3 separate regions of the Homo sapiens genome follow, and regions 1 and 3 are each linked to region 2. The links come from fine-mapping of genetic effects on gene expression. A gene starts in region 2. Each other region holds a variant in brackets. All regions are shown on one strand. Distances are between the middles of the regions.

Region 1 (10,689 bases), 38 kb before region 2:
AAAAAAAAAGACACCAAGAAAAACATTTCTGCCTCAAGTTTCCACTCTATTACCTTCTTCTGTACACAGTTATGATCACAACTATCTGTTAGTTAACATCTCAATGTTCGCAAAGCCTGTTAATATTTACTGTTAGGGGAAGGGGGAGTCAAACACTTCTTGTTTTACCTTTTAAAGCCTTGAGAATAACACTCTTGGGCTTAGAAGGGTCCCCAGTGTTCATATTGGCTCGAAAGATGGGCCCACAGCTACCACTGCAAATCTGCTCCAGAACTTCAGAGAGTTGCTCCCGCGGCACCTGCAGCTTAGCCAGGGCAGGTGTGGTAGCTCCCAGAAAGTTTTCCACGGATGTCTCCTTAAGTGGCAAAGCCACATTTCCTCCATGTCCTGCTTCCCAGCTTAGGTCCCTAGGTGGAGGAACAGGGGCAATGCCTAGAACAGAGAGATGATGTCAACCAGTTTTTCCCCGCCCTGGGGATCCCGGAAAGCAGACCCTGAAACAAATTGGCAAGGAGGTTCCTTCAGCAGTTTTCTCTTTGGCCAATGGGGAGTTGTCTTCTGATGCTTCTCTATAAACCAGCATCAATGTCAAGTTTGTAGAACCTTTATAATAATCCCCATTAGTTCTTAGGACAACTCAAGAAGGACCCCAGGAAATCGGTCATGACACTTCCTTTCTGCCTTCCTTCCTCTGGGTTACAATTGAGTACTTCCCATGAGTGTGGTATGGAGACAATTAGGGAAGTTACTGAATAGGTATCCAAACCACAGATGCCTAAAGGTGGAGGTAACTGCCAGTGAGAACTGTCATTTAAATCAGACAAATGGCTTTCAACGTTGGAGGAAAGGTATGGATAATTAATCAGCTTTAAGCTATGGTTATTCTTCCTCCTTTGAGTTACCCCAAAAGTCAAGTTATTTCATATTTCCTTGAGTCTTGGTCAAAAAAGTCTTCTGGTACTCTCTCCTTCCCTTGGCCAGCAAAAAAGAGAGGTTCATCCTTCTTATTAAATCTACATTTATTCATTTATTCAACAAATATCACCTATTACATGCCAGGTACTGTTCTAAGTGCTGGGAACAGGAAAAGTCCAGATTCACCTGAAGATTACTTTCTACTGGTAGGGGAGAGGAAGCAGGTAATAATATATCAAGCAATTAATGTTGTGGAGGAAAATAAAAGATGGAGAAAAAGCTGAGTGTGATGCCATGAGCCTATAATCCCAGCTATTGGGGAGGCCAAAGCAGGAGGATCTCCTGAGCCCAGGAGATCCTGGGCTGAATTAACATTCAGCCTAAGCAACATAGCGAGACTCCATCTCTTTAAAAAAAAAACAAAAAAAGGTGGTGGGGAGAAGAAGCATCAGTGAATCAGTCACCTGTGTTATATATGAAGGTCAAGAAAGGCCTTTCTGATGAGATAACATTTGAGAAAGGCCTGGAAGCAACTAGGGAGCAAACCATGCTGGTGTCAGGGAGAGTATTGTAGGCAAAGAAAGCAAAAATTGCAAAAGCATTAAGCAGGGAGCATAGCTGCAATAGTTGAGAAATAGCCAGGAAGCCAGTGTAGCTGGAGCCAAGTGGGATCATTGGAGAGTAGTAGGAGACAAGGCCAGGGAGGCCCAGATCACATAAGGCCATGGAAAAAATTTTGTCATTTTTCATTCTGAGCAAGGTGGGAGGCTACTGCATGTGTGTGTGTGGAAGAGAGATTTCAAGCAGATAACTAACAGGACTGACTGTATTAAAAGACTCATTCTGGCATTTCTATAAAGGAGTAGGGGCAGAAGCAGGGAATGTTAAGAGTGTGTTGCAGTGATCAGTGAGATGTGAGAGTAACTTGGGTTTATTTTGAAAATAGGGTAACAGTGTTTGCTTATGGATTAGATACAGACTGTGAGAGAAAGAAAGGAGTTATCTTCAAGGTTTGAGACTGAAAACACAGTCTCAAACTGTGTTTCAAGGTTTGAGACTGATATCTTCAAGGTTTGAGACTGAAAACACAGAAGACAGGACTTGCCATTTACTAAGATAGGCAAGACTATTTGCGGAGGACATTTATGAGAGAATTTCAGGACCTTTGTTTTGGTCATATTACATATGAGATTTGTATTCCATTGAAACTGTGCAGTAGGTGGTTTAATATGAGAATTGAGTTCAAGGGACTATCATTGGAATAGAAAATGTATTTGAATCCATAAGACTAAAAATTATAGCATTTAGGAAGTGGCTTTAGTTTTTTCAGTATTTCAAGAAAGAGAAAGTTTAAAATTGTTTCAAATGCTTTTGACAGATCAAGTAAGACGAAGACTAAGAATTGATCATTGGACTTTTCAATGCAGCTGTCATTGATGACCTTGGAAAGACTTGTTTTGGCGAAGTGGTAGAGATGAAAACCTTATTTTAGTGTGTTCAAAAGAGAATGTGATGAGTAGAAGTAGTAGGAGTGAGTTTAGACAACTTGTTTGAGAAGTTTTCTATAAAAGTGAAGTATAAGACTATTGGGATAAAATTTAAAGAAAAACTAAGGATTAGCCACTATAGAGTTTCATATCATTATGAGAGTTTTCTTTTTCCTTCTTTTTACCCTGAGTTTCATCTGTGAATTGATTCCCTTTTATTATATGCTCAGTGGAACTCCAGAACAGACTGTTATCATCTACTTAGCACTTCAAAGACTGTTATAATATAAAGGCCCCTCCTTTCCATCATATATCCTGGAGGCAAAGATTAGGAATGGAACGTATCATAGGGTGATATGTCATCCTCCTAGGATGTTCATAAAGCCTTGGACTTTACCCCCTTAGGTCTTTCTCCTAGGTCCTTAGGCACTCATATAGTCAAAGTTTTGATAGTCCAACAGGAATAGAAACAGGTTATATGAGGTTTTTCTTGCACACTCTTTTTTCAGTCAGTAAGCACGTGTTGAATTCCAACTCGGGAATTCCTAGAAAAGAGATCATCCCCCTCTCAACTCCATGGGAGGGAACCCATGCCTCTCTCATTGCAGGTACCTAGACTTCTAGACATGGGCTCATTGAAACTTAGACCATACTTTTTCCTAATCTCCATCTTCTTTAAGCCCCTGCCCAGCCCCAAAGTTTGAGCTTTACCTTGAGGTCCAGAACGCTGCTGTTGAGTTCTTTGTTCTCTGATAAAAAGCCACAGGATGACCCCAAGAAGGATGAGGAAGATAGTAACCAACAAAGTTGGGACGATAATCACTTCATACTGCTTCTCCTGGATGACTGGGTAGGCGATCACACAGGAAGAGAAGAGAATGAAGAAGCCTAACCTGGTGTTCATGCAATTTCCCCTACCCGCCAGCTCTCAGCTCATCATACATGAAAAGGTCATCTCTTCTACCATCTCCTCTACTTCCATTCAACAGAAACACTGCTGGGAGCAACTCTCTAACCAGAAACCCCAGTGACTCTGTTTCTTAGCCCATCAAATGTGCATGACGTTGCTTCTGGCAGTTTCTTACCAAGATTGAAGATGCAGCATCTGGATCACTGATTAGCACTTACCCTCTCCCCAAAAAGACAATGGCCTCTAGTCCCCATCCTTTTATCACCACTGTCTTCATTTCTACTGGAAATCAAATCATCCTCCTTCTAGAATCTACCGAGACCTTAGCCTTCATAATTCTAAAATCAGAGGATAGACATCTGTGGAATCCGTACTTACCACACAACTTGTCACTGAGACTGCATTCCAGGAGCATCCGTGTCATGCCCATTGCCACAGGGCTGTCCCCTTCCCTGCTAGGCCCACAGAGAATGCACACAGCACAGCTGTGAGTAATTCCTAAGGATTGAGTGGTTTTTGAAAAAAATAAAATGAATGAAAAAAAATAAATGAAGTACACACAGAATTTTAAACCGCCTCTACAGATCACTAGTTAAGTAAATGGCTACCTCTCTGAGTCATCCGTTTATCTCTATCTACCTAGCTGATATTCAGGTTGGAAGAACCCTCCCAACCTTCTCTTCCTCTCAGCGTTTCTCTTTTCTCTATTATACAGCAAAGAGCTCTGATCTGCTCTTGTCCTTTCATTCAACTGTTACTGAAATTATTTTAAAGTCTCCCCTCCCACCCGAGACTTCTGCTCCCATGATCAAGTACAGATTCAAAACATCCATCTGAACTGTGATCCATGGGTTATGTGGGCATGATCTACCTCCCCTACAGTATTAAGCATGTCTAATATATTTTTTTTAGCTGTGCATCATATTTTTTAAGCAAAACATTTTTTGAAGTTGGGATCTTGCTCTGTAGCCAGGCTTGAGTGCAGTGGTGTGATCATGCATGGCTCATTTAAATCTCAAACTCTTGGGCTCAATTAATCCTCCTGCCTCAATCCCCTGA[GTC/G]TCTGGAATTACAGGCATGAGCTACCATTTCTAGCTCTAAAGAAAACATTTAATTTCATTTTTACACACAGTTAATTCAGATAACAAATAAAAAATTGACAGATGTCGAAGGATATGAGTTACACATTTGCTTTGTTTCTCTGAAATATCCACACCCTCACAAGCAGTGAACAGACAGCATTTATCAATAAAAACTATTTAATTCCTCATCCCTCAGAGCTTCAAGGTGCTTCCTCTGCTCATATCAGATATAGACACGGACACTCATTGCTACAAGGATATAAAGGAAGTATCAGTACCAAGCCACCTTCTCTTTCTCTTTTAAATAAAAAGAAAATACATTCATATGATTCAAAAAATAGTAGTGTAAAATTGTATAGCATAAAAATATTTCTCCCCCCCATTCTTCTCCATTTATCCAGTTCTTAACTCTCCTCCAGTCTCCTCCAAGTAGACTCTAGTTATTAGTTTCTTGTTTGTCTGGCAAGGGATTCTTTATGTGTATCACTGTTAAGTCTATATAATATAATCAGTACATATTTCAAATAACAGCCCTAGAAACTTGGTTCTTTCTTTCCAAAGAGAACTCATGTTTACCACTGTCCCATACCTCTCCTAAATTTATATTTTGCCTTTGCTTGACAAGACACTCCCATGGTTCTATAGTCAACAAAGCCTACTTCTTTAATTCTGATTAACTTGAAAGAAAATATGATTTTCTGCTAAATAAGTCTAAATATGTGATCCAGTTTTGTAGTGACTTGATAAAAACATAAAACAAAAATCAGAAGTATAGCTTATATAATATGCTACTATGTTGTACAGGTGTTACATTAGCCATATTATGCTGTCCTCTATCATTACATTATGCATTGTTTTTAATACTGATACTAATAACCACAGTGTTACTTACTGAGGCAGAATCTCTCAGTGCCTGAAAGACCTATGTAAAGAAGCCTCCCAGATTCTGCCTTACTTGTGTTCCACTCTTCCTGGAGCACCATGAACTTGTATATGGGTTTAATAGTTAAACAATTCCCTTACGACTCAAGAGAAACAAAACTGTGCAGTTGGTTGACAGAAGCTCAGGTAAACAGCCAAGTAGCCAGCGGGCGGAAAATTGGCACAGAAGAGGGAACTTCTTATCCTTATTCTTATTCTTAGAATGGGATCTAAGAAGTTGATGAATAGTTAGATAGCAAAGTCCACTGTATCCAGTGTGTAAACCAAAATGGCAAGGAGAAATGTGGCTGAGAAAGCTTCCACAATTCATGAGGCCACATGGAAGGACTAGCACTAGTGATGAAACTTTCAAAAAACAGACCTTAAGAGAGTGGCACAAAGGAGAAGTTCTGAAAAATAAAACGTTGGATCAGCACGGTGAATTCAGGAAGGCTATTAGAAAAGTGATCACTGCTATTATCATTCTTATTTTCCTTTCCTTTGCCTCCTTTTTAGTGGATTATCAGAAGTAATTGTTTTCATTCAGGGAGCAGCCAGTTTAACCAGTTTGGCTTTCTGAGGAGGAGGTTCTCAGCACACTCTCTCTTACCACAGCACAGGTGGAAAAAAGGGTCAGTCAGCAGCTAGCTCAGACTCATGAGCTCGGCCCAGAAAACAAACTACACACCCACTAATACATACTGAAGGGAGTCGTTTAAAGCCATGTGTACGTGTACCCCCACATGGGCACAGTGAACTGCTCACGGAGGGCCATCCATACTCAACTATAGGCACCTGGCCAAACACACAAATCCCTGATAACTCAAACTCATGCTTATATCCTTACACTAACTATCACACCTATTACAGAGCACTCACCTTTGGATGCAATATGGCCTGCTACTGCATTTCCTGAGCCAGGTTCTCACCATCACTTTTATTTGTACATAAGTAGTTTAAAGAGGCAAGGCTTATTGATATCTTGCAGCCCAGTGAAATTGGATGCTAGAGCAAGGAGATAAATGTATAGAATGATGAGGTCCACCCAATGAAATTGCTTTCCATATGTGTATACAATAAACCCTTTCTAATGGTTACAGTTTATTTAGGTAGAGGCATATGGAGTGTACCAGATGAGTCTAGGATTTTTTTTTTTTTTTTTTTGAGACGGGGTCTCACTCTGTCGCCCAGGCTGGAGTGCAGTGGCGTGATCTCTGCTCACTGCAAGCTCCACCTCCCAGGTTCATGCCATTCTCCTGCCTCAGCCTCCCAAGTAGCTGGGACTACAGGCACCCACCACCACGCACGCCCGGCTAATTTTCTGTATTTTTAGTAGAGAGGGGGTTTCACTGTGTTAGCCAGGATGGTCTCGATCTCCTGACCTCGTGATCCACCTGCCTTGGCCTCCCAAAGTGCTGGGATTACAGGCATGAGCCACTGCGCCTGGCCGAGTCTAGGATTTTTAAGGCATACACACTGGGCATACCCACATATCCATGAAAGCTAATGTGGGAAACCTCACCACACAGAGGCCACCAAAGCTCATACATCAGAGGATGCTTATATTTACTTGTAACAGCAATATTCCTCTCTAGATCACTTTTTAGCTTGAAATTCATACTCAGAAACCACATGGCTTTGCCTGTCCACTCTGTCAAGCTGAGAAAAGGCATGCCTTAATGCCAAAAACCTCTAGGATGACTCTTCGATGGGTTCAACTCTGGCCCACCTGACTACTAGAAGGACACTTCTGGCCAAGATTCCTGTTCAATCTGACCAATACTCCACTCCCTTTCATTATCTCTAAATACTTTTCCCACTATGTCAAAAAATATATGTAGGCTACTGCTTCTTCTCTTAGCTGAACTGTAAAGCATTATCCACAGTTCTCTATTTAATGTTATGAATAATGAAATCCATGGCATTGGAATCAAGGGTCTAGTGAAATTGTAATATATTTCATTCTGATAAATATGTTTGATAGTTGTAAAATATGTTTGTATATACTTTGCCTCTAGTTTACATAATCCTATATCTACAGAGCCAAATCTCTTCAGGCAGGGTTCTAGTTAGAACCATAATATTGCCTCACTTGTAGTTATCATTCCTTAATTTCTCTTATCAGTTGCTTCAGACTTTCTCTTAGCATGTTAAAGGTTTAACTCCCCTCTTTCATTGAGAATCCTGAGAAGAAACAGTGCAATGAAGGAGATACAAAAGGGAGGAGAATGAAAGTGAAATGAGGAGTAAAGTCCATGCTAAATCTTTACAAGACTATAGTCTGAAGACCATAAAAGCTCATGAATATAACTATAACGAAATTGAACTAAATAGTAATATTAATTCTAAACTTTTACACATACAATACAAGCATAGTGTCACACTGCATTTAGGCATCTATTTTAATTCACACTATATTCTATTTGCAACCATAACACAACTCTTAATAAGTGGCATTTCTTTTCAGTTAGCACAATACAGTCTCCCGGACACAATCTGCAATTTACCCATGACTTTCCAGAGTAAACTTTTCTTACCAAAATATACCTAGATATAAGACTTCTAAAATCAGATTTCCTGCACTCTGCCTGCTTATGTGTGATGAAAAATTCCATGATTGAACTCAGTATAACATCTGGCCCTGTTCCAGTAAGGTACAGTTAAATCTGTTGTGCCAGCCTCACCTTCAACCTTACTGCTTGCTTATCAACACATGTGGATCTTCCAGCCATGTTCTTTTTAGATAGACAAGTGATCCACCCTCCCAGGTGGCTGCCACATGGATCAAGGAAGTTATTAATGGCTTTGGGCTATGGGGCAGAGGACTCAAAGACTAAAAGTGAGGAGGGTAAAATATATGGAGGTAGCAGCCCCTAGCCTGAAACAGTCTGCCTTCTTGTATAGTTAGCGTTTCATTCTTACCCTTGAGCTATCTGGAAAAAAAACAAAAACAAAAAACAAAACCAAAACAAACAAAAAACATGTTTAATGGGCTGAATATATTAATTTGGAAGTGAGATAGAGAACAATGCTCAGATCTAGAGAATCTGAGAATTACTTGTTACCAACATCCTATGAAACAAGCTTCCGGTTTTCAGATCTAATAAACCTGTGTTTAGCAACTACAGTGTGCCAGGTATTGTGCTAGGCACTTTCATACAAAGAAGGCAAGGCAGAAACTGAGGGATTAAGTTATGAATTAGTGATTAAGTTATAAATTGGCCACTTTTTTTTTTTTTCTGATGGAGTCTCGCTGTTGTGGGCCCAGGCTGGAGTGCAATGGCGTGATCTCAGCTCACTGCAACCTCCGTCTCCCAGGTTCCAGCAATTCTCCTGCCTCAGCCTCCCAAATAGCTGGGATTACAGGTGCATGCCACCACACCCAGCTAATTTTTGTATTTTTAGTAGAGATGGGTTTTATCATGTTGGCCAGGCTGGTCTCGAACTCCTGACCTCAGGTTATCCACCTGACTTGGCCTCCCAAAGTACTGGGATTACAGGCGTGAGCCACTGTACCCCACCAAATTAGCCACTTTTTAAAAAAAAATGGCAGAGCAAGGTTGCACACCCAGGTCTTTTACTTACAAACCCAATGTTCTTTATACTACTTTGTTGTGCATATATACTTGTCTTTCAAATGAGAAAGACCAACAAGGTCAAGAAGGAATTACATTGGAATCCAAAAGAATCATGGAAACCACAAGGCTGAAACCAAATTTTACTAACATACACTCAATTTGGAAAGAATGGATGAATTGAATCTGCCTGTAAGGGTGTCCATATAGGAACCTCATAGGGACATAGATGACATCTGCATGTCTGTCTTTAAAGTATATTCTGAAAATAGAAGTAGAATCAGAATTTTTTTCCTAGTATTCACCAGATTATGTCATCTTGGGTTGTTTCCTTTGTTCATTTTCCTGGGTCTGATCCCCAATCCTATTTCTATCTTCTGCTTTTTGAGTAAAAAGTCCCGGTTCTTAGGACTAGCCATCTTTCACTGTGAGCATGAGGGTCAGAAAGAGGCCAGAAATTGCAGGGGACAGGGCACTGGCTTAGGAATTAGGGTCTTCATGCTGTCTCTCTCAGTGCCCCAGGCTCTACCGTTCTAGGGAAACAAACCAGTGAGAGGACACAGAGTGCATGGAAGGGCACACTGGAGAGGTGATTCTTTTTAAATCCAGAGAAGCGTATTTGTGTAGATAACTTGCCTTATGCCCTGTGATATCTCCTAGTGTGGGTGAGGCAGGGAGGAGGTTATCTAAGAGAGGTTATCTCGTCCTCTCACTCTTCTCAGATATTGAGAAATTGTGCTTATTTCTGATCTTTGCCCTCCCCCATTTCCTAGAGACCCAGGGATCGAAATGAACACTAGAGAAAGTGTTTCAAATGGGTTCTCAAAGGGGAACCCCTTTCCACCATGGTGCCTAGGAGTCCTGCGCCTGTTTCAACAGATCTTTTGACTCACTGGTACTCACCAAATTATGAAATCTGAGGGCTATCAGTTTTTCTTGCTTCTATTTTTACCTGTCTCCAGAGATTCCTGAAACATATGTGATATACAGTTGAGATGAGGAAGCTTAGTCTATATCCTGGTACCTCACAAAAGTTTACTTTGTAGAGGAGAAAAGTGATTGCAAGACAGGCCCCATAACATCTAGGTAAGAAATGCAGTGCTCACAGATGCTTACAAACAGCATCAGATTTTAAATATGGTTTCGCAGATAAACACATTTTATTTCCTTTGAGGTATTATACAAATTCAAAACAGTTTATTTTTATTATAATTATCTTGCTATTTTGTATGTACCCAATTCCATAATCCTTCATCTACCAGTTTCAAAGAAAAGCCCAGAAATAGCATATCTTAAATTAAATATTCTCCTGCTGATTACGTTCTCTTCCTGAGATTCCTAATCAATAACAATTTTCCCAGCTCCTCAGTTTCCCCAGCTCAGAATAAGGGCTATCAGTGAGAGGGAAAAGCTGAGAACTCACAACGCCACCCCCACTCAGCACAGGATTATCTCTAATCCATCCGTGTCTCCTTTTCCTACCTGATTAATGCACCAGAAGATGGGTTGGGGCTGCTTTCAAATACCTTGTTCCTACTGTTGTCAGTGACCTTGCATTTCCAAGGATCAGTCCTCTTCTTTGGTATTCAGCCTGCTGGGTTTTTCCTTCTAAGAAAGATTTTGGGTTCTCTAAAACTCTCTTGGAAGTCTCCCCCCATAAGTGAGGAGATCTGTTTTGTTTTCTGGCCACTCTTCCAGCCTGTCTAACACACTGCCCTCTGGCAGAGAGGAGGGCCCAAGCTGAGGAGGACTGAAGGAAGACAGGCTACAACAGGCTGTAGGGGCACATATATACATAC
Region 2 (10,689 bases):
AACCTACTTATTCAGTACTTAACCAGTTTGCCTATTATTATCTGTTTCTTCCCAACAAGACTTTAATTTCCTGGAGAGCACAGTCAGCTTCTTTAGGTCCCTCATTAGCCCAGCCCAGAAGTAGGCACAGAACAGTAGCCACATCTAAATTCAGAAAGCATGTTGGAGAACTAGAGACTGGCTGAGCCTGGGCTGGTGGGGAGGACAAAAATGAACTGGCAAAGGAAGAAGAAAAAGCATGAAACCTTCATGGGAATAAAAGTTTAGGGACCAGCTATTTTGTTCATTGCTGTATCCCTAGCACCAAGAGCAGTGTCTGGCATATATCAGAATTCATATGATTGTTGAATAAATAAGTAGCTAATTCATCTATGAAAATAGCATTGGATCTGCAAGAAATTTTTATAGAAAAATAACCTATAGAAACTAATGGGGCATAAAGGATTAAGCTATAATACTAAAAGTACAAGGGGGAATGGGGAGTAGTTTTTAACAGTATATATAGCAAGTACATGGTACCCAGGTTTCTGTTCGATAGGGACACATTTTTTGTTCCATCATTAAGCAGGTTGTTTTTCTTCAGAAAAAAGATTTAAAGTTCTTTGCTTTCTATACACAGCAGGCAAAACATTGAGCCTTCAGAATAAAAATAGATAATATACTCAATAAAGAACACCATGTACAAAAATCAACTCAAAATGGATTAAAGACTTAAATGTAAGATCTGACACTGTGAAAGTACTAGAAGAGAACACAGAGAAAAGGTCCATCATATTAGGCTAGGCAATGTTTTTTTGGACATAAACCCAAAAGCACAGGCAACAAAAGCAAAAATAGACAAATGGGGTTACATCAAACTAAAAAATTTCTGCACAACCAAGGAAAAAATCAACAGAGTGAAGAGATAACCCATGGAATGGTAGAAATATCTGAGAAGTGATTAATATCCGGTAAGTGATTAATATCCAAAATACATAGGGAACTAAAACAATAGGGGGAAAACAAATAACTGTACTAAAAATGAACAAAGGACCTGAATAGACATTTCTCAAAAGAAGACACACAAATGACCAACACATATGTGAAAAAATATTCAACATCACTGATCATCAGGGAAAATGCAAGTTAAAACCAAAATGAGCTATTACCTCATACCTGTTAGAATAGCTATTATCGAAAAGATGAAAAATAAGTGTTGGAGAGGATATAGAGAAAGGGGAATGCTTGCACACTGTTGGTGGGAATGTAAATTAGTACAACCGTTAGGGAAACAGTATGAAAGTTCCTCAAAAAATTAAAAGTAAACTACTATATGATCCAGCAATCCCACTATTCGGTATACATCCAATAGTGATCTGACTTTTGTATATAATGTTCTTTATTCAGTATATTATCTTACTTTTATTCTGAAGGCTCAATGTTTTGCCTTCTGTGTATAGATAGCAAGAAAATGAAATCAGTGTGTCTGATTTCACATACTGCTGTCTGCACGCCATGTTTATTGCAGCATTGTTCACAATATCCAAGAGATGGAATCAATGTAAATGTCCATCAATGGATAAATGAATAAAGTATAAATACATACAGTATAAACACAATGAACTATTATTCAGCCTTTTGAAAAATGGAAATTGACAACATGGATGAACCCAGGAGATATTATGTTAAGTGAAATAAGCTAGGCACGAAAAGAAAAATATCATAGGAACTCACTTATATGTAGAATCTGAAAAAGTTGAACTCATAAAAGTAGAGAATAGAAAGATGGTTACCAGAGGTTGGGGGAATTCGAGGGGTTAGAAAGACGTCAAAGGATATGAAAGGGTATGACCTTATTCCTCCTTGTTAGGAGGAATAAGGTCAAGAGATCTATTGTACAACATGGTGGCTACAGTTAATAACTATGTATTGTATTCTTGAAAATTGCTAAGACAGTAGATGTTAAGTGTTCTCATCACAAAAATATGTGAAATAATACTATGTTAATTAGCTTAATTTAACTATTCCACAATATATACATATTTCAAAACAACATGTATATGATAAATATATATATAATTTTTAATTTTTTTAATTAAACATAAATTTTAAATATACATATAATAAAAATAAAGAATACCCAGTTGGGAAAGCTCAGGTACAGTAGGCAGAATAATGGCTTCCCAAAGATGTCCATGTCCTAATCTCCAGAACCTATGAATATATTGATTTTTTTTTTTTTTTTTTTTTTGACAGTCTGGCTCTGTCGCCCAGGCTGGAGTGCAGTGGCGCGACCTCAGCTCACTGCAAGCTCCGCCTCCTGGATTCACGCCATTCTCCTGCCTCAGCCTCTGATTAGCTGGGACTACAGGCGCCCGCCACCACGCCCAGCTAATTTTTTGTATTTTTAGTAGAGATGGGGTTTCACTTTGTTAGCCAGGATGGTCTCGATCTCCTGACCTCGTGATCCGCCCACCTCAGCCTCCCAAAGTGCTGGGATTAACAGGCGTGAGCCACCACGCCTGGCCATGTTGATTTTTAATAGCGTTGAAATAGCGAAGGGGAATTAAGGTTACAGATGGAATGAATCAACTGACCTTAAAATAGAAAGATTACCCTGGAATACTCAGTGAGTCCAGTGCAATTACAAGAATCCTTAAGTGTGAGAAAGGCAAAAGTGAGCGTCAGCATAAGACATGAGAAACACTTTACCGGCCATTCCTGGCTTTGAAGATGGAGGAAGGGTCCATGAGCCAAGGACTGTAGCAGCCTCTAGAGACTGAAGGAGGCAAGGAAATTGATTCTCCCTTAGAGCCTCCAAAAAGAACCATCCATTTGGAAACCTGCCCATCCATTTTTACTTCTGACCCCCAGAACTGTAAGATAAAACTTTATGTTGTTTAAAGCCACCACCATTGTGGTAATTTGTTACAGTGGCAACAGGAAATGTACACACTCAGGTTAAAAGAAAACAGAGCTGCAGAATCACATAACTCCTGGCAGATCTTCGGAGCACATGTTGGTTGGGACTGGTTGTGAGGGTTTGGGACAGGTGGGAAATAGTTTCTGCCAGAGAAAACTGAAATACATGCAATGCTCAACTAACTTGTGCATAATTAAAGACATTAGTTGTTAAAGGGTTGAACTGTACACCCTCTCAAAATTAATATGCTGACATTCTAACCCCCAGTAACTCATAATGTAACTTTATTGGGAGATGATAGTGCAGAGATAATCAATTAAAATGAGGTAATTAGGATGGACCCTAATCCAATAAGACTAGTGTCCTTATAAAAAGGGGAAATTCAGAGACATATATACAGGGAGAACACCATATAAACATCAAGACAGCCATCTACAAGCCAAAGAAAGAGGCCTGGAATAGATGCAGGCTTCATAACATGTTAGTTTTGGATAGCCAGCCTACTGAACTGTGAGAAAATCATTTCGTTGTTTAAGCCAGAGGTCACCAACACCCGGGGCGCCGACAGGTACGGGGTGCACAGCAGGAAATCAGAGGCAGGTGAGCCAGCAAAGCTTCATCTGCATTTACAGCCACTCCCCATCGCTGTCATTGCCTCCTGAGCTCCTCCTCCTGTCAGATAAGCCACGACATTAGATTTTCTTTCTTTTTCTTCCTCTTGTATTTTTGGTAGAGATGGGTTTCGCCAAGTTGCCCAGGCTGGTCTCAAACTCCTGAACTCAGGGCGATCCACCCACCAACTCCTCCTAAAGTGGTGTGATTACAGGTGTGAGCCACCGTGCCCACTAGCATTAGATTGTCATAGGAGCGTGAACCCTATTGTGAACTGCTCATGTGAGGGATATAGGTTGCGAACTCCTTATGAGACTCTAATGCCTGATGACGTAAGGTGGAACAGTTTCATTCTGAAACCATCTCCCGCCAACCTCATCGGCATCTGTGAAAAAAATTGTCTTCCACAAAATCAGTCCCTGGTGCCTGGTGCCAAAAGCCATGCAGTTTGTGGTACCTTGTTACAGCAGCCCTAGCAAACTCACACAGTAATGGAGGCACTGAACGAAAAAGTATATGATTTTCATTGAAGCAAATACTTCATGATGTCTCATTGAAAGACCTAGCTGCCCCCTAGCTAGCTGTCAGTGGAGATTCCGGTGCATTGAGGGGGAAAAACCAGGTAGACAGCACAGAGTTCTGTTTCCAGGTGTATTTCAGTTGAGCTGTGCTGCACATTACAGTAACTCGACTCCTTTATTGCCACTACTTCCCACCGAGTGGGAAGGAAGTGTGGTCTCATAGGTATAAGAAACTCCAATGTGGAGAGGACCCATTACAGAAGGAAGCAACAATCGCATAAATGAAAGAAAGAAAGGGGGGATGAAGGGTTGATAGAGAAAAATGAAAGAGGAAAAAAGACATTGAAAAGAAAACAGAGGCTAAAATGGTGAAACCCCGTCTCTACTAAAAATACAAAAAAATAAATAGCCGGCCGTGGTGGTGGGAGCCTGTAATCCCAGCTACTTGGGAGGCTGAGGCAGGAGAATCGCTTGAACCTGGGAGGCGGAGGTTGCAGTGAACCGAGATCGCGCCATTGCACTCCAGCCTGAGTGACAGAGCAAGACTCCCTCCCCCACTCCCCACCCCAAATAAAAAGAAGGAAAGAAAACAGAGATTCAGTCAACAAGGGATAGCACATCAGGCTGTACACTTTTAAAGCATGGTTATTGATATCTCATTTAAATATCGCAACAACCCTGGAAAGTAATTACCGTATTTATGCTTTGCAGATGAGGAAGCCGAAGCTGAAAGCAACGATTCCATGGTCTGAAAGGCTATGCAGTCCTCTGACAAGTAATTCCTGTAACCTCATTCTTTCCCTTCCCCCTCTCCTGATGGCCCCCTCTCCAGGAATAAACAGAGGTCCCCCATTCCTGGGTTTTCTCATGTTTCTCTCTGCACCAAATCTGCTGAGTCAGGTTTACTCCCTTATCATATAGAAACACAGAAGCCAAACCCCACAAGATGCTGGTTCCGAAGAAACACAGGTTAATTCACTTGGTGATTTCTGTTTGTTCACATAAACACCCGTTCCGCTCCCAGCCTCTTCCCTTTTTCTCCCTCCCCAACTGCAAAGTCCTCCCCCAGCTGCCTCGCTGCCATTCCCTTCCCACCTTCTTTACCCTCCCCGCCGCGCCCGCCCCCCATACCCCGTTCACTACCGTGTCCCTCCTCTGGTCACTCCGGTTTCCGATGGCACCGGCCCAGTCGGAGGGGAAATAATGACAGGGTTGGGTAGGGCAAGGTGTGCCAGCCTCAAGGAAATGCTTTTCAGTCCCTCCTTCCCACTGCGGGGCGTGGCTGCCGGCAAAGGATGGAGTTCGGGCGGGCTCCCGCGAAGGGAAGTCTGCGGGCTCCGAGGTTTCCGGGACTCGCCACACTCGAGCCACAGGAAACCTCTGCTGCAACTGTAAAGGCTGGACTTGTTGCTGATCTATACTCATTTCCTACTCTAGTGATTGCTAGATGTCAGGTATCACGGTGACTCCAGTCCAGGTGAAAACGGAGTCACGATACAGGGCAACAGCGCCACCTCACGGCCGGCCCCGTAGCAGCGGCCTCCATTGGCGCCTAAAAATGGTCAGGATTCACATTCAGGTGGATTATTCCGCGCCAGGAACATTCTCCACCTGAAGGCTTTGCCGGGGTGTTACAAGATAATACTGAAGGGACGGGAGTGGTGGCTTACGCCTGTAATCCCAGAACTTTGAGAGGCCAAGGCGGGTGGATCACCTGAGGTCAGCAGTTCGAGACCAGCCTGGCCAACGTGGCGAAACCCCGTCTCTACTAAAAATACAAAAATTAGGCGTGATGGCGGGCGCCTATAATCCCAGCTACTCAGGAGGCTGAAGCAGGAGAATCTCTTGAACCCAGGAGGCAGAGATCGCATAGAGCCGAGATTGTGCCACTGCATTGCAGCTTGGGCGACAGAGCAAGACTCCGTCTCAGAAAAAAAAAAAAAAAAAAGAAAAAAAAAAGTACTGACCACTGCGGAGACGTGGGGGAACCTATAAGGAATTAATGAGAATTAAAACCCCAAGATTACGTAATAGATCATTCATTTAGAGCCCGCGCGCGCGCGCGCGCGCACACACACACACACACACACACACACACATATATCCCATTATGTCCTGGGTTCTCCTCTGGGGAAACAGTGAACAAGGTAGTTATGTTACCCGTCCACATGGAAACTAAAATAATAGAAAATACTTAAGACAATAGATAGCTGAAGGAATTCTGTTAGATATTAACACCTAATACAAATTCAATTAAAGAAATAAGAGTCATAGGTAACTTGAATATGTGACCAATTTATTCAGCATTGAACGCATACCAAACACAAACTGACAGTCATTAGAGCAAAAAGAACTTGAGTCAATGTAATGTGGCATATTTAGAGATTGAGGTATGTCAGTTCTCTAGAGCTTTCTCTATTGGCATTTTCACTTCCTTCAGGGCTTTTTAAAAACAGGATGAATTGTACTTAATGCCACTGAACTGTTCATTTTTAAATGGCTAATGGTTGATTTTATGTTATGTGAATTTTACCTCAAAAGGGGAAAGGAAGACATCTCATCAGTTAGTTGTTCTTTAGATTCTTTATGTCATAAGTGATACATCAAATCCAAATGAACTGATTGGAACTTCATATTATGTAATTTTCTACTCTACCTCCCCAAGCATGCTCCTCCATGACAGATAAAGTGGTTTACTCATTTTTAAAATTTCTGCAATGTATTGCTAGATACTCATTCTGATGCACAGAATTTTGTCTAAAATCTAGTTACTATTATAGAAATAGAAGTTAAAAAAGAAACCAAAATACAATCCAGAAAGGGGAGGCAAAATTTTTCTCTCCAATTTTTTTGAGCAAATCACATAAATTATACATTAAAAACATTTTGAGTTAGAGAAAACACTGGAAATGATAATGCCCACACACAGAAACAACTAAGTACCAAATAGTCTGAGTTACACAGCAGACATTCACCAGGAGTTATATATGTATAGCTAGTCCCACACATTATACTCATTAATAAGATGGTTAGAATATCCATTATTTCTCTTTTTTCTTCAAGTTTTCATTCCCTTGTAATTTCAATTATTACCTCCATCTCAAATTTATAAGCCTCCAACTCATTGTCAACAATGCTTTGGCCCCAGTGTTTCTACCAGATCGTTATTTCTGCCTCATTATTAATTCCATAGGAATTTGTTGAATGCCCATTATCTCTCTGTCCAGATTAAGTACTGAACGGTAGTGGGAAGTCACACTGAAATATACACTGGAGATCTCTTCCTTCTCCAGTTTAGCCTACATGAATCCTAACTGCCAGATCCTGCGCTCCTCTAAACTGTTAAAGCCATCCATCCATGTGTTACTTAGTATATTCCCTCTTGTATGATTCTGCAGTTGTGAGGAAGGAATCTACTGGTTTAGTGGGGTGGAATCTATTTACGGAAGGCATGGAGGAATTCCTGGAAAGTCACTCATTATAAGAAAAAAGAAAATCAAAGCACAAAGGTATTTTCCACTAACAAGAATAGCTTGGGGTTCAGCGCTGGGTCTGCATCTCAATGTCCTTTGGCCAAGCCCGTATGCAATAACAGAGTCCTAGTGAGAGGGGACTCTCAAGTACAACTGGTAGAGTTATTTCACAGAAAAATACAACAGCAACAACAAAACCGTATGAGACCTTGTGTACACAAGGTAGCTTTGCTTTGGAACTGTTTTCAAGGGAATATAACACAAAAGCGGGGCAGGTGAATTCTTCCAACTTTATCTGGAAATGCAGTTCAACTTTCACAAAAGGGCAAGCAGTGGCTACCAGTAGGAGATAGCTCCACATGGGCCTGAGGCTTACCTGAAAGGCTTGCACTGGCACAGAGGATCAGAGTCACTCTGATGAAAATTATAAACAAAGTCAGCAGTAGAGTCACTGCTGCAGCAATGCCTGGCATGTAAATGGAGTTCCCAGGCATTTAGAGAACAATAGACATCACCAGAAGAAATCTAAGACAAGGAAAAGAGTGGATTCTATGTAGCCGCTAGGGTTTGGGATTGTGAAAATTTATGAGGTCCTCTACTATCTTGAGGATCTTCAGGGACAGTTGGGGAAAAGATCTTTTAAGAAACAACAGAGGTTCTGCAACCAACTAAAGGCGGCGACAGAGTATGGGAAATTACTATTCATATGACCTCATGTTTAACCCTGGTTGGTATACCCTAGAGAATATTGATCATTGGTAAGCTTCCATGTATATGTTGTTTCTTTTTACCTTATATATTAGTTTTCCATTGCTAACATAACACATTACCACACACTTAGTGGTCTAAACAACATAAATGTTTTATTTTACAGTTCTGTAAGTCAGAAGTCAACAAAATTCTATGTGGATTAAAATCAAGGTATTAGCAGGCCTGTATTCTTTTCTAGAGGTTCCTGGGAAGAATTTGTTTTCTTGCCTTTCCCAGCTTATAAAGGTCTCCCATATTCTTTGGTTGATAGCCTTTTTGATCCCCCCGTCTTCAGAGCCAACAGTGGCTGGTTGAGTCCTCTCACATCAGGTGTGTGTTTCTGTGACCCTTCTGTCATTGCTGTGTGTCCTGCTCTCTCTGACCACAGATCGGAAAGTTTCTCCACCTTTAAGGACTCACATGATGAGTAGATTGGGCCCACAGGATAATCTTCTTCTGTGAAGCTCCATTCACGTCTACAATGTCACTGTCGCCATTAAAGGTAGCATAATTGTTACCGGTGGAGGGTGTCCAGGTTCTTGGCGTTTTGAACCAAGAATTGGATGGACAAAAGGCACAAACAAGCAATGAAAGAAAATCACAGATTTATTAAAATAAAAGTACACTCCACAGACTGAGCAGGTTCGAGCAAGTGGCTCAAGAGCCTGGTTACAGAATTTTCTGGGGTTCAAATACTCTCTAGAGGTTTCCTGTTTGTTACTTGGTTTAAACCCTATGTAAATAAAGTAGTGGCCAGCAACCAGTCTGACTGGTGGTGCAAAATGACCAATTGGAGGCTGAAGTGAAGTTACAAATTTACACATGAAGACTTGGCCTGCAACCAGTCTGATTGGTTGCAGGAGGAGACCAATTGGAGGTCCTTTCATTTTTCATCTGCAACGGCAGAAAAGGGTGGAGGGGGGAGTTGCAAAGGAAGTAGCCTCTGATCGTTTTGTTACTTGGATGTGGAGAGGTGGGGTTTTCCTTTTGATTCAGTTCTAGGAAGTCAGAGCCAATCGGTCTTAGGTTTCCTGCCTTCAGACCCTGTTCTCCTGCCTCATAATCACAGGTTCTGAGGATTAGGGTGTGGACATATTTGGGGGCCATTATTCTGCCTACCACATATTGCTTGGAAGAGCTTGCGGTGTAAGGTCCATGTCTTACACCTCTTTGTAGTCTCTGTTTCCTGTAAATACTAAAAGATCAATAAATAAATAAAATAAAATAAAATAAAATAAAATAAAAAATAAATTTTAAAAAATGTTGTTGACCATAAAAACATATACCACTTGCCAACTACTTTTATTCTCCTCAAGAACATTCGTTCTCCCTATGGATTAAAAAAATGTGATAATTAAGGATATTATGTCAACCATTTGGGGCCACTCATTTTTTTCTTCTCGTTTTCCTTCTTTCCTCAGGATTCTCAAAGAATCATTCAGTTTAGCATGACTGTTAGCGATCACTGACCTACAGCTAGATTCCAGAGCTTGCATCAGCTTGAGCAAGTTGACCTTTCTGGGCCTCAGTTTTCTCGCTTGTAAAATGAAAAGGTTAGACTACATTAGCCTCAGGTTCTTGTCAGGGTTCATACTCTATGATCCTCTCATCATTGAATGCAAAATCTCATCTCCCCCTAACTCCCTCCTGCTAGAGCTATTGCACACTGTGGAACATCTCTAGCAGGTAGACATCCAGCTTTGTCTACAGTTCTTCAGTGCTGAGGACCGGCCAACAAGCAGCTTATTCCATTCATAACGCCTGGTTATCAGAAAGTTTGTTCTCACACTTAACCTCTCTAACCCTCAATTTGTTTACGTGTAAAATGAAACAAAAAAGGCCCAACTCAGAGAGTTGTTGAAAGTTCAAATAAAAAAAAATACTTGAAAAATATTTCTTGAAAATCAAAAGCAGTACATAAGTGTTAATTGCCATATTATTACCTAATATTGCTAATAATAAATTAGGTTTCTATTAATCTATACTTATGCAACCTATAGTGGATTGTACATCTATCTTTTAAACACTTTATCTTGTTCATCTCAGTCCCCTTCAGGTAAAACATTAAAAATAATTCTGAATCAAAATTCTGACATTATCCCTTTCTAGCTATATTACTGAGATATCTTCAACTATATACTTGATTTTTTTAAAAAAGCACCCTTTTTATATTATTTCTACCTACTTCATTGATAAAGGTAAAAAGAACAGAGTTTTTACAATACCACTAAATAATTATCTAAAGGTTGGTACTAATTATTCAATAAGCAGTCTTTAAATATGATTTTCCAAATAGCTACTGCCCTCCCTAATGGACTATAAGCTTCAAGTTAAGAATACTGTATCCACTGGGCTGCTCAAATCAGGAAGCTGGGAAATGCCACATGGATGCTCTTCAATCTTTTTGCCTCCATTTCACATAATCAAATAT
Region 3 (10,689 bases), 53 kb before region 2:
ATATCAGCTGTAATCCATTTTGTTGAATTATATGGAAAGCCTCATTCAATATCTTAGATTCCCTAATGTCTCTCCTTCAGGTTTTTGGCACATGTGCCAATGTTCATCTTCATGTTTACCTAAATAGAACTATGGATACCAGAATGTGTAACTATATAAATAGAGGTTACAGAATGCACAAAGTATTAACATCTTTGTTAAGTGGGCCAGTTACTGTCTTGATCTCCAAAAATGACATAGGGGTTCAAGACTATAATCCTACCTGTTTGTAAGATAAAATATGAAACTATATTTACTTAACTCTCTATATTTTAAGCCAAAATTTGAACCTTTTGTATTGAAGCAAGAATTACAAAGTGATAAAGCATTTGCGTTGTGTTGTATTCTTGGATGGTACACAACAGTGATGTGGAAATGTTCTTCTGTATGGCTGCTGAGCCCTTGAAATGTGACTACTGTGACTTCGAACTGAATTCTTAATTGTGATTAATTTAGATTAACATTTAAATAAACACATGTGGCTAGAAGCTACTGTGTTGGTCAGCACAGTTAGAATCTTTTCATACACTTTTAGTTGGGCTAGAAATAGCAAAAAAAAAATTGTGAACATTTTCAAATTGCTTGTTGTAGGCTCCAAATTAGGACGTACTTACTGATATCAACACAGTTTACTTATGAAAATAAATATTTGAGCTGCTTAAGTGAAGCCAAAATACTGTTTCCACCTTTGCTAACACAGCGGTAAATTTCAAAGCACAAAGTGAAGTAGGTAAGAAATAAACGTTTTATTTCCATCTGAAATTAGGGCTTAATGATCAAATCATTCTGACTTCCAATTTTCAGAAACATGTTCCATGTTTATTGTGATAAGCACTAGGTATTATAGTCTCATGTTTTTAATTTATGAATAACGTCTGATTCATTTGATTTTGTATTTACAGAAGAAAAGATGTCAGGGCTATCTCATTCAGTTATTAATAAATGGATCAGAGTAGTAAGTCAAGAATAAGTGCATAATGTGGTTTAAATTTTAAAAAATACTCAGAATGAGGTAGTATTTTAATTTTTAATTCATCCACCCACCTTGCTCTTCTCTTTTCCATAATAGACTTCCCTGTGGACGTTAGCCTTATCTGTCTTTTTACCACTTAGTGGTATTAACTTTTTAAGTAAGAGAATCATGATCATGCAGAAACACCAAACTTTCCACACCATTCGTTATCACATATGTTCATATATGGCGAGAACTTGGAGCTACTTCTAGATTACCATGACATGATATATTTAATTCGATTGTTCAATCTAAAATTTTTTTCCAGCAAATGACAATATTATATGCTTCAAACACATAGCATAATCTCTAACTCTTTTCCCCAAAACGGGTAAACACAGTATGCTAAATTAAGGGTAATAGGATATCTTCCAGTCTTCCACTGTATTTGCTACTTATTTATTTCAGTAAGAGTGTTAAAGCAAAATTTAAAAAAATTATTGCAACAGAGTTAAGATTAAGAAATCTTAATTAACTGACTTTTTTTGTTTTAAAATGCTAAAAAAAAACCCACTACTATTATTTGATTTTAATAACAGAATACCTAAATCTGGCATAAAAAAACATAGTGTGCTCCATAAGCATAATTTAAGAACTACTGGTTCAGACTATTCTATTTTAAACGACGTTACCAAGTTTCCCTTAGACACTGTATCTAGGTGGGTGTTTGCGTTGTTCCTAAGTGTTGGAATTTTTTTTTAACAATAAAGCATAGATTGGAAAAACAAGACTGGAAGAGAAGGCAATCAAAACAATACAACAAAATCTATCTAGAGTCAACCCGATTAAATGATAAATATTTTGATTCTTTTTTTCATTCATTAGCTTGGAAACACCTAGTTTGGCTGAAAGGTCAATGATGCCAGAAATATCATCCTCCTTCTGGAAGAAGCCTGGCCAAGTGAGAGAAAGACCCAGTTTTCTTAGAGTAAAAATTACTGTATCCAGTTTTCCGGGCCGGAAAAACAAATAAAATTGGGGGTAAAAAACTTAAATATCAATTGTCTGCTTCTTTCCCTCCTACTAAAAGAAATATGACAGTACAACAAAGCAACCTTCCATTTCACTGTGTTCCACTTTCCCTTAGCTCACCGTGCTGCAACCCATATGCTTTCTTGCAGTTCCTTGCCTCAGAATTTTCACGCACACATGTCCTCCTCCTGGGAGACTCTTCTTATTCGGCCTGGGTTACTTACCCATCCCTAAGGTCTCAGTTTATAGCCCATTTCTGTTCAGGGAAGTGTTCCTTTTAAACTCCCTTCTACTACCCTATGCTTTTTCTTTATAGCACTTAACACTTCGCACTTAACAGATACCCACACAAATAAATGTATAATGTGTCTCACCTTCTAGACTGTAATCAAAAGCTCCCTATTTCTTTTATCCTACACCTAGCCAAGTGTCTGGCACAGCAAGCCTTAACACTCAATATTTTTCAGTGATCAGATAAATAAGTAAATATTTGTAATTTTGACTTAACTGAACAGCTGAGAGGCAACAATGGGATTCCATAGGACTTTGTAATTTTGTGTGAAGCCACTCTTCTGCCCTTCTCCCTACTGCAACTTGCTACCCATTTAAATCCTGACTAGTCATTGTGGTATTCTTACAGCGGCAAGAATCATTATTCCTTTAGCTGACTCATTATGATTCCATCAGGATTCCAACTTCTACAACATTTTTAGCTGCCAGTCATTTTTCTTATGGCAGCCTTAGATGTCCCTTCCAGGGTACCCAAAGTGTTTTTTAAAATTGCAGACTACCATGTTCAACAGAATTGCCCTCATGATGATGTTTTCAATATTTTGTAATAGTAGGAGTCCACTATCATCATCCAAAAGCGTACAAAAATGATGACTTCATCATTGCACATGTATAATATCACTACTTGTGCCATATCATCATCTTTAGGCATGTCCTGCCTTGCAGTGTTAGCGACTGAGTTTCTCTTCTTGGTCACAGTAGATTTTAAATGAAAAATATATGAAAGGTCCTGGGTTAGGAAGGGCAAAAGAAAAGGAGAAACACGTTTATTGAGCGCATATGTGCCAGATAGTGTACAAATACATACTCAAAACGTATCAATCCTCAGAACAACCTTGTGAAATAGGTATTATCCCCATTTACACATAAAGAATCCCTTTTCTGACATTGTACATTATCTCTTGAATTTTTCTATTGGCATTAACTTTCACTTATTTACTTTTATCCTCCCTATGATATTTTTAGTAGTTATAAACCAGAAAAGCATATTTCCATTTAATAAATATTAATTTAATAAAATAAGTTTCACAGTATATCAACAGATGATTGAAAATTAGAAGCTGCTATCCTTCCATATCAGATTACATTCTTTTCTAGCCCTTGTTAAAGACTGAGCTACTAAGCCTTCTTGCTTGGTTTCTACATTTCCTATTTATTGTGCACACACACACACACACACACAGAATTCTTTTCACTGTTCTAACATTGACTCTCTAGGCTTAGTCTCCTTAGTCTAATCGGAACTAGGAAGCTAGCTTAATGAACAATACATGTTGAATGTTCTTAATCATGAAATGACTCCTCCACCTTCTAATTAAACGTAGTAACAAACAGAATTTACCTGTCTCAGAATCAGATAAAAGGGGACCATCTTTCTTTTATCTATACCTAAGGTGAAACTCAGAGGTTTTTCCGTTATAGTTCTCCTCCAACCCCACATGTAGGGCTCAGGACTGAAGAACTTTGTGTCCTACCACCTTTTCTTGAAGGAGGTGTTGGTCCATATCTGTAATCCTGAGCAAGAAGAACCTTAAATTTTCTTTCCCTTCAACTCTTTTATTGGATTTCTATTCCTTCATTTCATTCCAAATTTTCATCTAGATAAAAATGTGGTTCCAGAGGAAACTAGCCTCGGACGGGAGGGATGAGCTTATTTGTGCCATGCCCCAACAAATACTGCAGAGTTCTAAAACCTCCTTTGCACAGGTCCACCACTTCTACCCAGGATTTCTAGGACTGGGACAGCAGAAGTGAGACTGACAGTATGTCTTAGCTCAGGATGTGTAGAGTCCCATCCAGCATCATTTCAGATTTCCCGAGAAATGTGTAAAGGAAGATCAAGAATCCATGTCCCATTTCTCCCTTTGTGTCCCTGGGAAAGACCATTCTCTGTTCTTAGAGGAATTGATTCCAAGAACATATACTCATGCATGAATGTTTCTTGCCCGAGACTCTTCAAAGCATGCTATAGTTGTAGAAGAGGCTCTCCACTCTGATGCCGGCCACAGCTGCATACAGTTCAGGTACCACCAACTCTGGTACTTGTAACACAGCCTCGTCATCTGCAGTTTTAATGGCAGCTTCTAGGCGCAAGCGCAGCTCTCTAGGTGAGGGGCGGTCAGCCTCACGCCAGCGCCAGCAGGACTTCATGATACTGTACCTGAGAGGGAAACAAGAGAAACTGACTTCCTTGACAAGGCAAATGTATGGGGAGCATGTCTCCTCTCCTCACAAACTTTAACAAACAACTCTGCAATTCTTTAATTGTCTTCTGTTTGCCCTGTTACTCATATTCTTCCCAGAGAGTGATATTCCTTCTCAATCTTTTTATATCAAGTCTCTTAATAGCACTTTCTCAACAAGTGCTCTTGTATAATAGGAATGACTTAACATTTTCCAAACTAGGGTATGACAGGACAGTTTTATCACTACATATTGTTTGCTGTAACGTTGTAAGCATTGTGCAGTAAAGTAACAGGGCTGGGTAGAAATGAACACATGTCATTTTTACTCTGATATGAGACGGAGCTTTTAATCATGTATACTGCTGCATACTTTAGGTTGATTTTCATGTTTCAGATATCTCCTCATCAAAATGTTATGTTCTTTAATACTTGTGCCTAGAAGCTGCTGCTAGAATTGCAGATGACAAGGCTGTGTTACAAGTACCAGAGGTTGTGGTACCAGGTCAGGTATTTTGTCAGTTAGGTGTCTTTCCCAGTATTAAGACCAGCCTTTAACACATAGAAATGTTTGTCATCAATTTTTTTCTATTGTACCTAGCTCCATCACTATATTCTGTGCGTGTGTGTGTATGTGTATACTCATATATAATTAAGATACTTAAATTTAATCTGCTTGATGCAGTAATTATTTATCATAAGGAAAACCAAGTGCTGTAAATTTACCCATTCAATGATAAAAAACTTACAAAATAGCAACAATTCTAATAAAAACATTAATATATTCTCTGCTGCCTCC[G/T]TATACACAATTTAACCTTTTCTTACATTCTACAGCAGTTCCTTTTTGAACTTCATTGGTAATAACAGTCTATGTAATTTTTTATTTTTCCATTTCCTGCCTCTAGGTTGGTTCACTAACTGTCCCAATCTGCTGACAATATTGGATCCTCCTTCTGCCTTTCTAATTTCTTCTTATCTCCCCTTCCTCTGGTTGGCTTCTATCACACTGAGAGTTGGAAAAACAGGGAGACAGTCATTTAAAAGTTAAATACTAAATAAGAACTGGTATACTCTGAATGAGTAACTCTAGTGCAATGGCTTTTATGACAGCTGTCTGAACTGTGGCTGGCAGAAGACTGACATTTAGACTAAACACAACTATACTTGCATTGGGTTTAGTTTACTTGTTACCTATTTTAGAAGCTTCCCATGGAACTAAACTATAATAAAATTAGATTCCTGATATAGTTCTCAGCGTGTGGTGGGGGTATGTGTGTGTATGTGTGTGAGTATGTGTGAGTGTGTGTATGTATATGTATATATAATATATATGCATATATAATATATGAGATAGGTATATTTTACTGCATGGGTTTGGTTAAAAGCTGTACATGGGTACATATACACAGGTGAGGATCATCTGAGCCCTTTGAAAAGGGCACGATTGATAGAGGGCTAAACAACATTTGGAATGAAAGAGGAGCAGGCCTTTAAAAACCACTTACATGGTATGTGTGCAGCTACTGGGTCTCTTCATGATTTTCCTTCTTTGGAGATGCTCTAGGATGCTGGTAGGAGGGACTTCAGGATACGGTGGTGCTCCTGTCATTACGAAAATAATGAGAACTTTAAGGTCCTCTAAAATATGAACTGTAACTAACACTATTCTTCATCCACTTGGGTTGGTTGCTTGCAAAAGATATAGCCATAGGAAAAATACTACATACAATTCAGTTGCTCCCTGGTGATCAAATATGGATATAATTTAGTGAATTGGGGGGAAAGGTGTTTTGGAGAAAAAAACCTGATAAGTTAGGAGAATCTTGAATCTCTAAGAAAGTGATCAAATAAGACAAAGTAAGACATAAGACCTGTCCTCCACTCTCCATACATGGGAAAGTGTGCAGTTTCTCAGTCAAATGAATTAATAAGTCTGGAGTAAACATTTTTATGTTTATGCAAGACCACTCTGGGAATTATCCTTGGGATTTGAAAACATCCCTTGGATTTGGTAATATTTTGGGGAAAATAAAGAGGAAGAGAGCAAAAGAAAGGTAAAAAAGGACAGGGAAGAAGGGACTGGGGCAAGGAGAAAATAATCACTTTATATGACTATCACGGGAATCAGGCTTAGATAACATGTCAGTCCATTTCAAGCTTCAGCACTGTACTGAAACCCTTTCAGAAAGCATACATCATCCACCCCTTAAATAAACACGCTTGCATATTTGCATACAGGTACACACTATTTTGGGGCTCATCCTTACCTAGAGTCACCATCTCATAGAGCAGGATCCCAAAAGACCAGCTGTAAAAGAAACAAAGCCATCTATTTAATTTCTATTTCTGTTTTTCTAAAGAGAGCTCATTTAAGTGTCAGAAGCCTTTAATAAGAGCCCCATGAAAAAGGCAATGAAGGAGAATCAAGGATGAGTGTCTGAAAAACAAAATAACAGCCATTAGAAAGCATTTCTGCTCAATTTCCATAGGTTCGAATCTCTTTTAAGATTGAAATTATATCTCTATTTACTCTCCTGTGTTTTAAATTAATAGATGTTTGTTATTATTTGCAAATGTGTGTGCATGTAACCACACAAACACATTTACCTCAATCACAAAAGCACATTTACCTAAAAATATTCCCTCTGTGTCTCTTTCTTCCTTTCCATCCCTCTCTGCTGAAATTCTTGCCTTTATTCTTAGCACAAATTCAACCAAGTTTTATCATTTAGTCACTATTTTCTCAGTAGATTTAATTGCCCAAACCTAGGAAAAATATTAACAGGGCAAGCTTTATATATAGTTGAAATAGGTATTTGCCTAAGCAATATGACTTGAGAGGTGTATAGTTCACTATTCTGTAATATCATTATTGAATGATTAATATTTTACAGTTAAGTTTATTACCCCCAGATGTCTATTGAAAAGCAGATGTCAGTGAAGCAACAATGGAAATCTCATAACTGACTCATCATATTAACTGATATTCTAAATTTCCTCTGCTGCTCATGGCATTCATGGCTAGCAGGATATTCTACATTACATCAATGCACTTCTCCAAGCAATTGAGTTATATGGCTACCAAAAGTCAATTGTGATTCTTTATGATCCTGTTAATGCCAATTTTACATGTAATTGCAATTATATGTAGTTATATAATCAATTAGGTATTTTATATATGGATTAAATGCAAAAAAGTGTTATCTTCCTTCAAACAAAGTTTGAAGGAAGTTGAATGTTTTGAAAACTAAGTTGAATGTTTTGAAAATGATTTATAAAAATAAACTGCTGAAAAAGAAAGTCTTGTCAAATTGTGTGAGGGAGACAACTTAGAAAATTGGGAAAAGTAACATCAAAAGTCTGCAGTCAAACAATTTCACAATTATTTTCAGGTTTCTCATGCTACCTAAAATCATTCTGAACTGGAACTCAAAAATAAATCATTTTTATTTACACTAAAAGATACTATTTACACTAAAAGAACAACGTGTAACTTCATTTGGGAAACTCATCCTTATAAAAAGAAGCCTTGCCCCTCCTTGAAAAAAACAGATAATGTACATTTATAAGTTTTATGTTAAAATAAGTTATTGAAGGTATGTATATTTCTTTTTATTTTAACAATGTATGGGTTAACTGGCCTTTTGGTTATTCCTTCAGATAAAACAGACTTTACTAGATTAAGTCCTCAGATATTGATGTGAATAATCTTTTCACTTTTTTTTTTTCTAATTAAGGCTGCTAATCTAATACAGAAGAAATACTTGAGGCTGGGCATGGTTGCTCATGCCTGTAATCCCAGCACTTTGGGAGGCGAAGGTGAGAGGATCACTTGAGCCCAGAACTTCTAGACCAGCCTAGGCAACATGGTGAACCTTGTCTCTAAAAAAAAAAGAAAAAAAAAATAGCCAAGCAGGGTGGTGCATGCCTGTAGTCCTAGCTTCTAGGGAGGCTGAGGTGGGAGGATCGCTTGAGCCTGGGTGGTGGAGGCTGCAGTGAGCTGTGATCATGCCACTTCACTTCAGCCTGGGCAACACAGTGAGATCCTGTCTTAGAAAAGAAAAGAAGAAAAGAAAAGAAAAAGTTGAAAAAGTACCAAAAAGGATTGCAGACAGATGACAAACATGAACTCTGTCACATAACATTTCTGCTTGAGAGTATGTCTGATTTCTAAGTAGAGATTATATTCGTATACAGAATTGGCAACAGATCAAATCATATTCAGGGACAACACCCAAGTCATGAAGAAAGTAAACTCAGAGTCCAGGAATAAACCGTACACATCTGCTCTGATGCTAGCAGGTCTCAGGAGAAGCCGTTCTGGGGCAAGCCACTTGAGAGGTATGGTTTGAGTAGAGGAGATGGCCCCTCGGGTGTAAACTTCATAAGCCAGGCCTAATCCACAGAGCTTAGCAGTGAGATCACTTTGCATCAGAATATTCCTGGCTGCCACATCCCCATGGAACAAATGCTTCTCCTGCAGGAATTCCTGTCAAGATAAAATCAAATATGATCAGCTGTCTGAGATCACAGCTTGGGTCACAGACAAGGAGAGGCAGTCCTAGGAATCTTCAAAAACACAAGGACATTTTCTACTCTGAACAAGTCTCACTAATAATGATATGTCACTTCCAAAGCATGCTAATGAACTGCACATTTCTGCATTGTGTTTAGGATTACCAAATTGAGCAAATAATTCAAATGACATTAATACTGGATTTTGAAAATATAATCACCTCTGTTTCAAACACTGACCCCTGCCTGATTTTCGTTTCCCGTGAGAAAGGACCCAGCTAGACACTGGAAAAGGGAGTAGATTCCAAGTTTCTTTCTTTTTTTGTTTGTTTGTTTGTTTGTTTGTTTGTTTGAGACAGTCTCGCTCTGTCACCCAGGCTGGAGTGCAGTGGCGGGATCTCAGCTCACTGCAAGCTCCGCCTCCTGGGTTCATGCCATTCTTCTGCCTCAGCCTCCCAAGTAGCTGGGACTACAGGCACCCGCCACCACGCCTGGCTAATTTTTTGTATTTTTAGTAGAGACGGGGTTTCACCATGTTAGCCAGGATGGTCTCGATTTCCTGACCTTGTGATCTGCCCTCCTCGGCCTCCCAAAGTGCTGGGATTACAGGCATGAGCCACTGCACCCGGCCTGATTCCAAGTTTCTAGCAGTAGTCCTCAAAACAATGTAATACGTACCAAAATTGAGTATCATAATGAAAAATGTATATACATATCTCACTTTTTCCCCTAAAATAACTGCATGGGTTGAATTCAGAAATTTTCTTTTAGATAAATCTAAATGATTACAAAAGGCCACAGAGTTATTAAGCAGTAGTGACCAGAACCAGGTATTATAATTCATAGGATGTACTATATAAACTCTACTAAAAATTTTCAAGTCAGTCTGCATATTGGAATTGCCTGAGAGCTTTTTAAACATAAGATTTTCACCCCAGATTTAATAAACCAAAATGTAGGAAGAAAGACCTGGTAACCGACATTTTTAAGATGTATCAAATTCTAGTACAGCCAACAGAGCATCGGAGAGCCATGGCACCCTATGATAATTGATTTTTGGAGTAATTTCCAATGGCATCAACCTATTCAAGGCATAAGAAGAAAGTTGCAAAACTATACATGACTGAAGATCTAGATATTGAGGGCTGTGATTACTAAAAAAGGATGGTATAGAAAATTAGAAGGTAAAGGTGATAATTTCCAATCACTGATGACAAAGAAAACTAGCAGTTTTCTGTGCCTGGTGAAGCTTTAAAATAAGAAATTATAGTGCCATGATAAGAATTAAAGAATGTAACTGACTTTGAGCTTGTTAAAAGTAAGAAAAAAATAGCATGATATTGCCTTGTAACAGGTAGCATAGGGTCCTGATGAATGCACCAATTTGACCAATTCATCCCTGGACGGCGCCTCTGCAATTGCGGTTCTGAATACAGGGTAGGCTGTATCCTGACACTCTTTATCAAGGGAACATATCAACGAGGCCATTCAAACACCATAGACAATATTCACGTATATGATGTGTACTCTCCCTTGTCCCATGGGAGCTTCAACCATAACTATTACTCTTTACCCACCTTAATCCTTTTTTTCTAACCTTTTCCTGATTCCACTTACATCCCTATATTTCACACCTCAAAGTAGCAAGATATATCAAATACTTAAAACAGTAGCTTC

Evidence for each region. PIP is the estimated chance that this variant, and not a neighbour inherited with it, causes the effect.
Region 1: its variant is the best candidate, but not a certain one, in a credible set for the expression of STYK1 in whole blood (INTERVAL, PIP 0.78).
Region 3: its variant is the best candidate, but not a certain one, in a credible set for the expression of STYK1 in nucleus accumbens (GTEx, PIP 0.62).

What each region holds. Positions count from the first base shown.
Region 1 is chr12:10,630,877-10,641,565 of GRCh38, forward strand. It overlaps STYK1 (serine/threonine/tyrosine kinase 1), which reads right to left. Exons shown (of 11, transcript NM_018423.3): 2 at 6,195-6,320; 3 at 3,691-3,810; 4 at 3,114-3,248; 5 at 169-432. The coding sequence starts at 3,742. Among named protein-coding and RNA genes, the nearest start is that of MAGOHB, 23 kb to the left of the region's middle. The variant GTC/G (reference allele first, on the strand shown) is at 4,372.
Region 2 is chr12:10,668,788-10,679,476 of GRCh38, forward strand. It overlaps STYK1 (serine/threonine/tyrosine kinase 1), which reads right to left and starts at 5,265. Exons shown (of 11, transcript NM_018423.3): 1 at 5,179-5,265.
Region 3 is chr12:10,615,874-10,626,562 of GRCh38, forward strand. It overlaps STYK1 (serine/threonine/tyrosine kinase 1), which reads right to left. Exons shown (of 11, transcript NM_018423.3): 8 at 8,778-8,986; 9 at 6,765-6,805; 10 at 6,003-6,099; 11 at 3,050-4,475. The coding sequence ends at 4,271. Among named protein-coding and RNA genes, the nearest start is that of MAGOHB, 7.6 kb to the left of the region's middle. The variant G/T (reference allele first, on the strand shown) is at 5,297.